2 linked regions of the Homo sapiens genome follow. The protein of the gene in region 2 interacts with the protein of the main gene of each other region in a pairwise test. Each region holds a gene or a part of one and is shown on either strand. Other genes may lie near its edges.

What was found.
Region 1: the proteins of SGPL1 (region 2) and RNASE10 interact in binary tests that used the Homo sapiens proteins (3 or more experiments, as listed by UniProt).

The regions. Positions count from the first base shown.
Region 1 is NC_000014.9:20,508,531-20,514,407, forward strand, and holds the end of RNASE10 (inactive ribonuclease-like protein 10 precursor), read left to right. Parts: intron 1-1,936; 5' UTR 1,937-1,941; coding exon 1,942-2,592; 3' UTR 2,593-5,354; downstream 5,355-5,877. UniProt on the Homo sapiens protein: Secreted proximal epididymal protein required for post-testicular sperm maturation and male fertility. May be involved in sperm adhesion to the egg zona pellucida. Does not have ribonuclease activity.
Region 2 is NC_000010.11:70,867,947-70,874,975, reverse strand, and holds part of SGPL1 (sphingosine-1-phosphate lyase 1), read right to left. Parts: intron 6,632-7,029; coding exon 6,543-6,631; intron 5,185-6,542; coding exon 5,079-5,184; intron 3,929-5,078; coding exon 3,830-3,928; intron 3,140-3,829; coding exon 2,990-3,139; intron 1,626-2,989; coding exon 1,387-1,625; intron 1-1,386. UniProt on the Homo sapiens protein: Cleaves phosphorylated sphingoid bases (PSBs), such as sphingosine-1-phosphate, into fatty aldehydes and phosphoethanolamine. Elevates stress-induced ceramide production and apoptosis.

The DNA.
Region 1 (5,877 bases), on a different chromosome or scaffold from region 2:
GTTCACATAACCCTTATTTTACCTAGTAATAGCCGCAAAGTGCAAGAATGATGATGCTGGCAATTCAGACACGTCAAAAAGAACCCGTAAAGTGCTCCGTTTGAGTGAAAAGGTGAAAGTGTCTCAACTTAATAAGGAAAGGGGGGAAAAACATGCTGCAATTGGTAAAATCTACAGTAAGAAAGAATCTTTTATCTGCAAATTTTGAACAGTATATTGTTATAATTATTCTATTTTATTAGTTGTTGTTAATATATATTACTAATTTATAAATTAAACTTATGTAGATATGTATGTATAGGAAGAGAACAGTACATATAGGGCCTTAGACATTCACTGGGGTCTTGGAACATATTCCCTGTGGATAAGGGGGACTGCCATAATACTCTTATCTACTACAGAGATCATACTTTTATCAATTGCCTCAATAATGTTCTTCATAGCAATTTTTTTTTTTTCTGGCAGGGAATGTGTCTCTTTGTTAAGGGGATGAGACTGGCCTAGCAAGACAAAGATGCATGCTCAGCTCTCCTTAGGATCTTCTTTTTTTGAGACAGAATCTCACTCCGTCACACAGGCTGTAGTGCAGTGGCACCATCTTGGCCTTCTCACGGGTTCAAGCAATTCTCGTGTCTCAGCTTCCCCAGTGGCTGGGACTACTGGTGCGTGGCACCATGCCGGCTAATTTTTGTATTTTTAGTAGAGATGGGGTTTCACCATGTTGGCCAGGCTGATCTTGAACTCCTACCTCAGGTGATCCACCTGCCTTGGCCTCCCAAAGTGCTGGGATTATAGGCAGAAGCCACCAAGCCTGGCCTCCTTAGAATCTTTATGAGTAGGGGAACCCCCAGCAGGTCAATTGTTTGATTTTCTTTGGTTTCATTCTTATTCCATTTCTTCCCTGAGAGTATAAACCTAATCAGCAAGACTACTCAGATGTTAAGAGATCTTTAATAGTAGAAGGAATCTGGCTTAACAAGATGTAGCTTTAGCAGGGGCCTGAGATGTAAAGTTGGACATCTTCCCTCCAGCCTCAGCTTAGGAGTAAGAATGGACTGTGGTACTTTTTCTATTCCTTTTTATCTTTTGTGGGGAAGGTGGGTAACAAGAAGAGTAATAGATATTTGAATAAGCAAAAGCAAATTTGGGTTAAAAATAAAGAGATGGTCTTCTGTGGTAAATCTAGTCCTATATTGACAATAAGGCTTTCTACAAGAATTTCCCTAAAGGAGAGTGTGACACTGTACACGCTTGTCTTCTCAATCATTCTCTGGTTATTTGGCACAAATTTCTGTTTAAGAATCAATTGATGTCAGGGGCATGGTGGCTCACACTTGTAATCCCAGCACTTTGGCCAAAGTGGGATGATTAATTGACCGCAGGAGTTTGAGACCAGCCTGGGCAACATAGCGAGACTCGTCTCAAAAAAAAAAAAAAAAAGAGCTGGGCATGGTAGTGTGTGCCTGTGATCCCAGCTACTTGGGAGGCTGAAGCAGAAGGATCACTTGACCCTGGGAGATTGAGGCTTCAGTGAGCTATGATGGTGCCACTGTACTCCAATCTGGGTGACAGAGCAAGATCCTGTCTCAAAAGGAAAAAAAAAAAAAAAAGAATCAATTGATGTCAACTTTCCTCACTGATTTCCCATATGTAAATTACCTCAGAACTGCTTCCCTTGGTCATCTCCCTACTCTTCAAGAGAAGAAACATGAGGAAACTTCCACATTTTATTACACAGCAACAGGGAATGTGGTAGGGAGGAACAAGAGAAATGGGAATGGAAAGAGAAATCGCTGCCTTGAAGAGGGTAGAGTAATGTGCAGAAGACACAGGAGACCCCAGATACAATGCTGTAGGGCTTAGTGAGATTACAGTCTCTACTAGAGCCAATTTTGATCTCAAAGTCACGTTCTTCCATTTCCCGCTTCCTCTCCAGGCAAAATGAAGCTGAATCTGGTGCAGATCTTTTTCATGTTGCTGATGCTGCTGCTGGGCCTGGGGATGGGCCTGGGGTTGGGACTTCATATGGCTACAGCAGTCTTGGAGGAGAGTGATCAACCGCTCAATGAATTTTGGTCCAGTGACTCACAGGACAAAGCTGAGGCCACTGAGGAGGGAGACGGCACCCAAACCACAGAAACGCTGGTGCTTAGCAACAAAGAAGTGGTGCAACCTGGCTGGCCAGAAGATCCCATCCTCGGTGAAGATGAGGTTGGGGGTAACAAGATGCTCAGAGCCTCAGCTCTCTTTCAGAGCAACAAAGACTATCTTAGGCTTGACCAGACAGATAGAGAATGCAATGATATGATGGCACACAAGATGAAGGAGCCCAGTCAGAGTTGCATAGCCCAGTATGCATTCATCCATGAGGATCTAAACACAGTCAAAGCTGTCTGTAACAGTCCTGTCATTGCCTGTGAGCTCAAGGGGGGAAAATGTCACAAAAGCTCCCGACCTTTTGATTTGACATTGTGCGAGCTGTCCCAACCAGACCAGGTCACTCCTAACTGCAATTACCTAACTTCTGTTATAAAAAAGCACATTATTATAACCTGTAATGACATGAAGCGCCAGTTACCAACTGGACAATGAAGCAACTCATCATCTTTTTTCTCTTCACCTTCTCCTGTTCCTCTTCCTTTTTTACTTCTTCTTTCTCATATAGTTCTCCTGATCTTAGGTATCATGCAGATGGAATTCTTCCTTGCCCTATGGGTCACCCAACTTGCATTTTGTTCCTAGGATTAGAGATGGTAGGATAAGGTGATGATGCCTAGTTTCTCTAAGCTCTCTGCCTCTCCTTTCCCTTACCCTGGAAAGGAGTAAGTGAAGAGCTGCTGTAGTCCGTACTGTAGTCCTGGCCATCCATTTGTTTCCTGCTCTGCTCTGAGTTTGTCTCTGGATGTGGACTGGAAGAGTTTAGTGTATCCTTTACCCATGTTCTTCCCTGCTGCCCACCCTGAGCCTCTACAACAATCACATAAGACTCTTGGGTTTTGCACAACTGCACTTCTCTATTGCGGATGAAGTTAAAGTGATTCTATCTGTAATGGCTTCTGGAGGACCATGTGGAACAGGCTTCCTTTTCCGAGCTTGGAAAAATTTAGGGCCTAGGTATGGGGGTCTGCTGGGGAGGTGGTGTGGTGCTGTAGAGCAAGATAGAAGATGGGCTGGAGCAAGAATAGAACTCTTTTTTCTTGACCCTTCACTGCCCTTTTCTCTTTCTTCCCACCTTTTACTAGCAGCCTCCTTGCTTGGCTTCTTGTTTTCATCTCTTACCTTTGCTTTTGTCCTTTGCTTCTTTTTCTCCTTACTTTCTCTGTTCTCCTTTTCCTCTTCTTTTTCTTTTTGGGCCCGCTCTTCTCTTTATCTGGATCCTTTTAGAGATTCAGTCAGCCGATACTGATCACTTATGCTATGTTGGTCCTATAGTCAGTCATGCAAGCAGATGTTCGTCCTATAGTCAGAGTCTGGCACAGGGAGTTAGAGGGGGGTGGGTCAAGAGAATGAGAAAAAGAGAGAGGAAAAGAGAGAAAGAGAAAGAGAGAGTGAGAAATCTTTTTTGAATTATGTCCAGAAGCAGAATAGTGCTCATATGAGGTGCCCAGTAGATGTGGGATGAATGGGATGGGAGACAGTCTTTTTCTCATTTAGCATCGTTTCCGCTTTATTGCTCTAAAGAACAAGAAAGTTAGTGAAAGAATAATTTCAGCAGAGAAGGTATCAAACTTAATCAAGGAGAAGAGAAGCTGTGTGGCTGGATACACAGAAGATGCAAGTGGCTGCCCTCAGCCTATTTCCTCTAAATTCAAATGAGAAATAGTGTAGTTAGTCATGCATAGGGAGAAGAGGAATCTGAGAACATAGCTGTAAGGATTCACCGTGTGACTGAATTTTGAGATTTCCTTCCCCTAGAGTTTTTCTCTGCTTCACATTCCTAGACTATTATAGACCCAAGTCAGGGACATACATAAATGGGAGACTGAAGGGAAGAACGGTTTGCTTTACTCTGACCTGGCTTGCATTTTCCTGTTCTTTCTGTCTTTATTCTCTTTATCCTTCCTGTTTTCACAGACAGGCAACCACTTTAGTATCCTCCTAGACGTCCCTGATTCAATATATCCCTTATACCTCTGACTCACTTCCAGCAATAACCTCTTAGGAACAGTGTTGTCTCCCAGGGAATTCTAATAATAGTGGACAGGAGGTATGTCTCCATCTGTGGGCTGGCCTGATGTTTTAGAGGTGGTAATGAAGTGGTGAAAGGTGATGACCCAGCCAAGGCAGATTCCTATGCTTCCTGAGGGCGAATCCCTCTCCGGGGAAAGAGACAAAAGATTATCTAAGGTAAGGGGGAAAAAATGAGAAATAGGATGGGAAGAGGGGAAAGAAGAATAGGTGTCAGAGAAAATCGGCCACGTTAGCAATCTGTCTGGTAGGTAAACCAAGGATTTAGGAATGAAATGTGAAAGATCTCCATTGTATGGAGTGAATTATTAAGAGAATGGAATTAGCCAGGGATTAAAGCCTATATTCTCTAGTATTCAGATGTGGCTCCATCCTCTTCAGCTTCCGTCCAGCTTCTCTCCCTAAGCGTTCCGGCACTGTTTGATGGGCATACTCATCTCCTCCGGGTCTTCACTTTGGGCAAATCTCAGTGGGTCATGTTTTTCTTTTGTTTTGTTTTGTTTTGTTTTTGTTTTTTTTGTTTAATCTGACCACGTAGACTATCGCAGGAAAGCAATTTACAAAATACTCCACAGGCGCCTAGTGGCTCAAGCAGGAAAATATAGCTTCCATGGCTGATAACAGGGTGACAAGGCATTGTGGGGACCTCACCTCCCAGGGGCAGAAAATTAACTCACTGTAGCTCAAATTCTGCCTCATTCACAAGACTTTCACCGAGTCTTCTAATTCCAATGTAGCTTCCTCTCTACACTTCCAGGATCTGTGTTGAGCCCATATGACAGATCCCAGTCCCTTATCTACAGTACCCAAATCTCTGAAGCTCTGAAAATGGAAAGTTTTTTTCAAAGTGGCCCCAAAACTCATTTAGATATGACACCTGACTAGATTGACAATGTGAGGCTATTTATCTTGTTTATTTATGCTATGTGACCATTACATATTTCACTGTGGAAATATCACTGTGTTTTGTTATGAGTAGGTCCTTCTAAGAGTGTGTTAGTCATATATGATATAAACATACACACATTAACATACAATAGTGCTTTTTAAAATCTGAAAATGTTGGCCAAAATGCATTGGCCCCAAAAGTTTCAAGTAAGAAATTGTGGGATCTATATATACTATTTAATTAGCCTTAATTAATTTGAGTATACTGGATATGATCCTAGTTAGGCCACTAGCACCTTTGTGGAAGGATCTGTATTATAAGTTTCTTCTATATTCTTCATTGACACATTTATTAATCAATGACTATCTACCTATGGGCCAAGGGATGTCTCCTCTACTGTTTGGAAGACACTCAAATATTGTCTTCAAAACACTCTGTACAAGTTTTTGGCCAGGTGTGGTGGCTTATGCCTGTAATCCTAACACTTTGGGAGGCTGAGGTGGGAAGAACACTAGAGCCCAGGAGTTCAAGACCAGCCTGGGCAACGTAGGGAGACCTCATCTCTACAAAAAATAGAAAAATTAGCCAGGCGTGGTGGCACATGCCTGTAATCCTAGCTATTTGGGTTAGGCTAAGGTGTGAGGATTGCATGAGCCCCAGAGATTAAGGATGTAGTGAGCTATGATTGCACCACTGCACTCCAGCCTAGGTGACAGAGTGAGACCCTGTCTCAAAAAAAAATTTTTTTTAAGTTGTTCTGAGCTTTGCTGCTTATTAACATTACTGTCCAGGAATGGTGG
Region 2 (7,029 bases):
GGCCCTATCAGAGCTATAGGAGGACCTTTTATATATATCTAATTTTTATTTATTTGTTTGCTTATTTATTTGAGACAGGGTCTTGCTCTGTCACCCAGGCTAGAGTGCAGTGGTGTGATCATAGCTCACTGTAACCTCAAATTCCTGGGCTGTTCAAGCAGTCCTCTTGCCTTAAGCCTCCTGTGTAGCTGGGACCAAAGGTGCACACCACCACATGTGGCTAATTTTTATTTTTATTTATTTTTTATTTTTGAGATGGAGTTTCGTTCTTGTTGCCCAGGCTTGAGTGCAATGGTGCCATCTCAACTCACCGCAACCTCTGCCTCCCGGGTTCAAGCAATTCTCCTGCCTCAGCCTCCTGAGTAGCTGGGATTACAGGCATGCGCCACCACGCCCGGCTAATTTTGTATTTTTAGTAGAGACGGGGTTCTCCCTGTTGGTCAGGCTGGTCTTGAACTCTGGACCTCAGGTGATCCACCCGCCTCAGCCTCCCAAAGTGCTGGGATTACAGGGATGAGTCACCGCGCCCGGCCTCATGGCTAATTTTTAAATTTGTTGTAGAGATAATGTCTCACTATGTTGCTCCGGTTGGTCTTTAATTCCTGAGCTGAAGCGATCCTTTTGCCTTGGCCTCCCAAAGTGCTGGGATTACAGGCCGGAGCCACCGTGCCTGGCCAAGGATCTTTCTCAAATGAGAAATGCCTGCAGGCAGCTTTCCTTCCCCCTCAATATACTTAAAGAGCCTCCCCAATCCAAGTGACACATAGAGAGATGGGCAGATAAGATGTTAACAGATACATTAGACAAAGCATGCAGCCTGTTCTGGCCTTGGCTTAACCCAAGATTTCATTGCCCTCCTTTCCTCATTCCTTCTGGCCCATTTCCAATTATTTTCTTATTCCAATGATTCTTCAAGTATGATTCCTGGAGCAGTAGCATCAGTATCTCCAGAAATGGAAATTTTTAGAGCCCATCCCAGTTCCACTGAATCAGAAACTCTAGGGGTGGGCCCAGCTACCTGTGTTTTAACAAGTCCTTCAGGTGATTAGAATGCATGCTCAAGTTTGGGAATCACTGTCCTAACCATTAAATTGTACATTAGCCTTAGGGTAAGAGCTGCCAGTTATTAAGACATCCATAGAGATGAGATAAACTACAAATGAGGCCCCCGTCTCAAAGACCCTCCAAAAGTCAGGGCAGAGAAAGGGAGCTTCTTCTCCCAGGCCAGCTGGTCTGGCCTAAGCCCTAAGCTGCTGCCCTAAGCCCTCTATATCGCAGGAGACAACAGGTGGGCTAGGGCTATGGATACTTAGCCAGGCAGGTGCCTTGAGCCTACTAGGACAAAAAAGCAATAGACAAGGCAGAACCCCAGTCTTCCACACATACTCTGACTTGAGGAAGCGAGCAGTTTTGATGATCTGTTTGGTAGCTTCAACATAGCCGTTCTCACCGAAGTGCATCAAGGCAGCCCAACAGGCTGCGCTAATGCCACCAGGCCGTGAGCCTGCGATGGTTGGGGAAGCATAGATGCCACCCTGCCAATCTGTATCGACGAAGAACTGATAGTTCCTGTACTTCTTGTCACTATACAACACCAATGATGAGCCTTTTGGGGCATAGCCATACTGTGGAAGAAGTAGCAGACAAGAAAAGTGAGAGTATAGTTCTGTCTGGCAGACCTTGTCCCAGAACTCTCATCATGCAAAGGAAATCCTATTTATTTCTCAGTTTCTCTGTTATGTTTCCCACTCACATTAAGGATTCAAACTTAAAATGCTAAAGGATAGTAGGAACTTAAGGGATGGAGTTTAAATTCTCTCTGTTAGGAATGAGGAATCTGAGACCCAGGGAAGAACAGCGCCCAGTTAATCGGTTTACTCCCTCTCTTGCCCAGCATGTGGTTTACCTTATTTAAAATATTTCTCTGGAGACCATATGTCAGGATGAAAGCAAGGGTAAGTTTGCAATGGAAGCCAGGAAAGGATGGAATTTGTCACTTCAAGTTAAAATCACCATCTGACCCCCTTCCCATCTTTTTTTGCTTAGTATTACTAAGAATATTATGCTTATGAGAACATAATGGTGCTCAGAAACTAAAAGCTACTTAATCCAGCTTTAAAATTAACTATGTAACTGGTTTCCTTATAGAACATCTGACCCCCTAATTAACTCTTATTAAAACTAACGTGGAACTAATTTCATTACCTGAACCATCCAGAAATGGATGGTTATGGGAAAAGGACACAGGAGCTATCTGGATGGTAAGGAAAAAACAGATGCTGACTGAAAATCGGCTGCAGATCACACCGATTTTGAAAAACAAGTCTTTAATATACTTGAGTTTAAAACAAGCTCTGAAAATGCAATCAAAACAAGGTACACATTCCTGAGGCTGCTAATACTTCTTCCACATCTGGATGTATATTCAATAGCGTTATCAACTGATCTAGACTTTGTCTCAGTCCACCAAGGGTGGCAGGCGTGGCCATCTCAAATGCTGAATGTTCCTGAGCACACAGGTTCTTCCCATTTTCCAAAGGACTCTTCCGTCAACATTTTCCCGTCATGTACGCTCAGGAGCCCAGTTGCACAGCAGCTCTAATGTTATCTACCAGCATGGGAACTCCACTACCAACCCTCACACTCCTCTACCCTCCACCTCAAATCAGCTCAAGGCTTCAGGGAGCTTTTTTAACAAGGGCCACTACACTAGCATGTTCTAGTTACACACAGTCAGTGGATACAGAAATTCTCTTAGCCAATTTGAGATAAAGGTAACAGGTTCATTTTCACTACTGCTTGTCACCTCTACCACTATACCCCATCACCTGAACCAGCTGATCTGGTGACGGCAAAGAGAGAGTTTAAAACAAGCATCTGATGAGAATTCTATAGTTAATTTTATACTTTGCGGGGAAGCTACCAATTTATTTTATCAATAATAGTCAAAATAATCAACTGGTAACACTTGATCTCCTCCTTAGCTCACCTTATGGGTGTCAGCTGAAATGCTGGTTACACCTTTCACCCGGAAATCAAATGGGTGCTCCAGTGGGTATCCTGCTTTCTCCATAAAGACGATGAGGAAGCCTCCCAGACAAGCGTCGACATGAAGGGGTATTTTGTATTTGACAGCCAGCTTGTTCCAAAAAACAAAGAACATAAGAGAATTTCCTTTATAGCCCTATAATAAAAACTGCAAGACATGGGTGGAAAGATGGGCTATAAACACAAGGCTATTTTGTATTATGCCTCCCATGTTTTTAAAAAATGGCTATTTTTAACATTCCCAACAAAATTTATCTTTCAAATGTATTTTCCCTTCAAAATAATTCATCTGAAATATGGTATCAATTTTATATTTAAATATGCATGACCTCAAACGCTCTGCGGTATCAAGCAGGAAATGAGTAGAGCTCTGATTTAGGCTGCCTCTCGCACAAGGGAAAGGTCCTGCCTCAGTCACTGCAGGATGAGGCGTGAGGGAAAGGGAGGCGCTGAGGGGCAGCATGTGGAATATCACCCTTTTGGTGGGCACATTCCTACATGCAGATTATTTCCAGATCTCAATCTAGAAGGCAATCCTATTTCAGAATTTCCAGTTTAAAAGGCCTCAGCCTTGTACTATCTTCCCCCACAGCAGAGACTAGCAACTTTTAAAGGCTTGCAACTGAGCTGCAGGGCTTCCCCTAGGGCTGATGAGAGCTACTTATCACTACTGTGGTCAAAAACAAAAAAAAAATCGCTTCTATTTGCCAAGTACTGCCCCATTAGGCTTTGTTTTAAAATATCCATTTGCCTGCCTTAGCAGCCCATTTCTCTCATATACCTTGGCCACTTCAGGGACAGGATCTATTACACCATGAGGAAACTGTGGGGTAGAACAGACGAGCATGGCAGTGTTCCTGGAGATAGCTCTTCTCATTGCCTAGGGATTTAAAGTTTAAAGGAAAATGAGAATCTATGTCACAATTACTCTTCTCTTCTGCTGCCAAGAGCAATTTGGGCTGCTAGCTTAGAGTTCCAGTTCCACCAGTACCCCCTCCTTCACCACTCCAACTGGGAGAAGACTGCATCCCACCACGGTGACAGGACACAGGTGACTCCAGGTAAGTCCATTTGGAGAATAGTCTGAGAGCACAAAATAAGAACAGAATCGCTGTGGGGGCGAAAATAATATTGAGCTAAGAGGCCAAAGAGCCAAATGTGAGCCCCAGCCCCACAACGTACCAGCAGTGAAACCCTGAGTATGCTACTTCAGTCTGTTCCTTATCTGTGAACTACAATAATATAACAGCTTCATCAACCTCTCTGGAATGTCATAAAGCTCAAATGGGATTCTGACAGAACACTGAAACTAGAAAACTCCTCTACACAAATGTGAGGCATAAAAATAATCACTATCATAATGACAATGGTATTAATTTAAGCCAATCTAAACCACAGTGAGAGTCTTTTTTTTTTTTTTGAGACAGGGTCTTGCTCTGTCACCCAAGCTGGAGTACAGTGGTGTGAACACAGCTCACTGCAGCATCAACCTCCTGGGGCTCAAGTGATCCTCCCACCCCAGCCTCCCGAGTAGCTAGGACTACAGGTGCATGCCACCATGTCCAGCTACTTTTTTAAATTTTGTGTAGAGATGGGGTCTCACTATGTTGCTCAGACTGGTCGCAAACTCCTGGGCTCAAGGGTTCAAGTAATCCTCCCTCCTCGGCTTCCCAAAGTGCTGGGATTACAGATGTGAGCCACCATGCCCGGGCCATGGTAAGAGTCTTAGGGGAAGTGAGTCCATGTTCATTTTACAAATAGAGAAAAGAAAGAAAAAGTGATGGCGCTGACCGCAAAACCAGTGTCTCTCAAGTCCCAAGTTAGTGACTAGATCACCTCCCTTTCAGAATTCATGAACCTATGAAAAGACTGAAGCTGCAGTCAATCACCACTATCAATGCAGTTTTTCATATTCTGGCTGCCACAATCAAAGGCAGTCAGACCCATCTGACTGGAAACGGCTAGTCAACAGGAGGGCCCTTCTGCTGTCAGGGCCCAGCACAGACAGTGGGCCCTCCAGAGGGACTCACCCGCACATCCACCTCCATCATCTTCGTCAATGGGACCCGCACAATCTTCATCCCAAAGTAACTGGCTGCTTTGTTAAATGCAGCATGGGCACTTTGGGGAGCCACACTAAATGACAGGGAAGAGGAGAATAATGTAACTCAGGCCAAAATAATAGAAAACACCATTAGCAGCTAATCTAAATTACCGGGAGTAAGTTCTGATTATTTTTCCCCAAATTAAAAATTTAAGTGTTTAGACTGCTCTACTTTTCTTTTTAAGCACACCCAAAAAGAGGCCAACTGATTTTCTGCAGAAACTTCCCTCCTATTTAGGAAATCATTCTGGCAATAGGAAGAGGACTCAGAAGTGATCCCACAGTGAGGGATCCAAAGCATAAAGCTAGGCTGGCAGGCGGAAAGCTGGGGGACAGAGACTTTGGATGAGAGCAACACAAGGCAGAGCTGGCTAACGGTTGCCTACCAAAGACAGGCACCTCAGTGAGAATGAGAAGAAGGCTTCCCGGCACAACACATGTTCAAGCAGAAATGTTCACACAGCGGCCAAGCATCAGCTCAGTGGCCCCTTCCAACTCTGAAAGACAACAAACCTGAAGAAACTAAAATCCCCATTTCTCCTACACATTTGGAAATAGTATTTCAAATAGTGTTGAAAGAGAAAATGAGGTCACGGGTATTTGCTTTAGACTTTCCTCAACTACTCCATTCATACAACGAATCTGTTCCCTCTAAGGAGAAAAATCTCTACTACTGAGGAAGTACCAAGCACCAAAGATCGACATATGAAGAAAGAATGGCAGCCTGGTTTATTCTCTTATGCTACATATGAACCACAGCATGAGACCATATGCAATAAATCCCCATTGTCAAGTAATACTTGCAGTAAAAATATTAAGATGTAGGATAAACATACTGTACAAGGGGACAGTCTAGGAAAAAATAATGTAACTAAACATCAAATTTATGTCCAAGGAAGGCAATGTGGGTAAATCTCAAAAAGATATTTTTATTCTTCCTCCCAGAAAACAGCCCTCACACTAAAGTTTTCCCAGAGAGTACCCTGAGGCAGCCTATAATATTAAGTAACTTTCTAAGGTAAGCAGAACTAAAGTACCTAGAGAGGTTTCTTTAGGCTCCAAATAATTTGCAAATATCACAGGATTCAAAGATGTAGTCCTCAAACTCTCACTTTTGGAAAAAGGATCTTATTTTTGCTTGTAGTATATACTATGCATGATCTGGGGGTGGGGCGGGATGGGAATGATCTTTAAAAATAACTGGCTGATCCATTTAGAATTTTACTGAATGTAAAAGGATAAGGGCAGAGGGGCTAGGACAGGGGGAAAGGGGACCAGAATTACCAGAGGAAGAGAAGCAGCAGGAAAATGGATTATCTGCTTTAGTTTCATAAAGCTGTACTCCAGACAGACAAATCCAAAAGGGGACAAAACAGCCACACATACATACATTTCTGGAGTTTTGATCCCCTTCTCAAAGGCCAGATCCCGATATGCTTTGCAGGCCATCAGTATGCTTTCTGTTCCCCCAGAAGTCACCTATAATAAAGAAGAGATGCCATCTGTTGGGGGAGTCAGGAATGCCCCGGCTCTTCATGCCCTGATCTTGACAATGTTTGATACAGAAACAGATAAGGTCTTGGATGCATGCTGCAAGGCAGACACTGCCATGTCTTCCAGAAGGAAAATTTGGCTTTATTGGCTAAGCCTAATTTTGGCTCAGGTGAAGAATGAAAGCTACTAAATAATGAGCAGAAACTCAGCACTGCCTAGACAAATGCACACTTGGCCAGATCCCACCTATTCACAATCCATTTACATTTCTGTATTAATTTTTCAATTTTCAGATAAGATAGGGCATTTTATGCCATTCAAAAATATCAGAATTTTAATTTAAATTTTCAATACCTGTTAAAGAATGTGAAATTGTGATTACA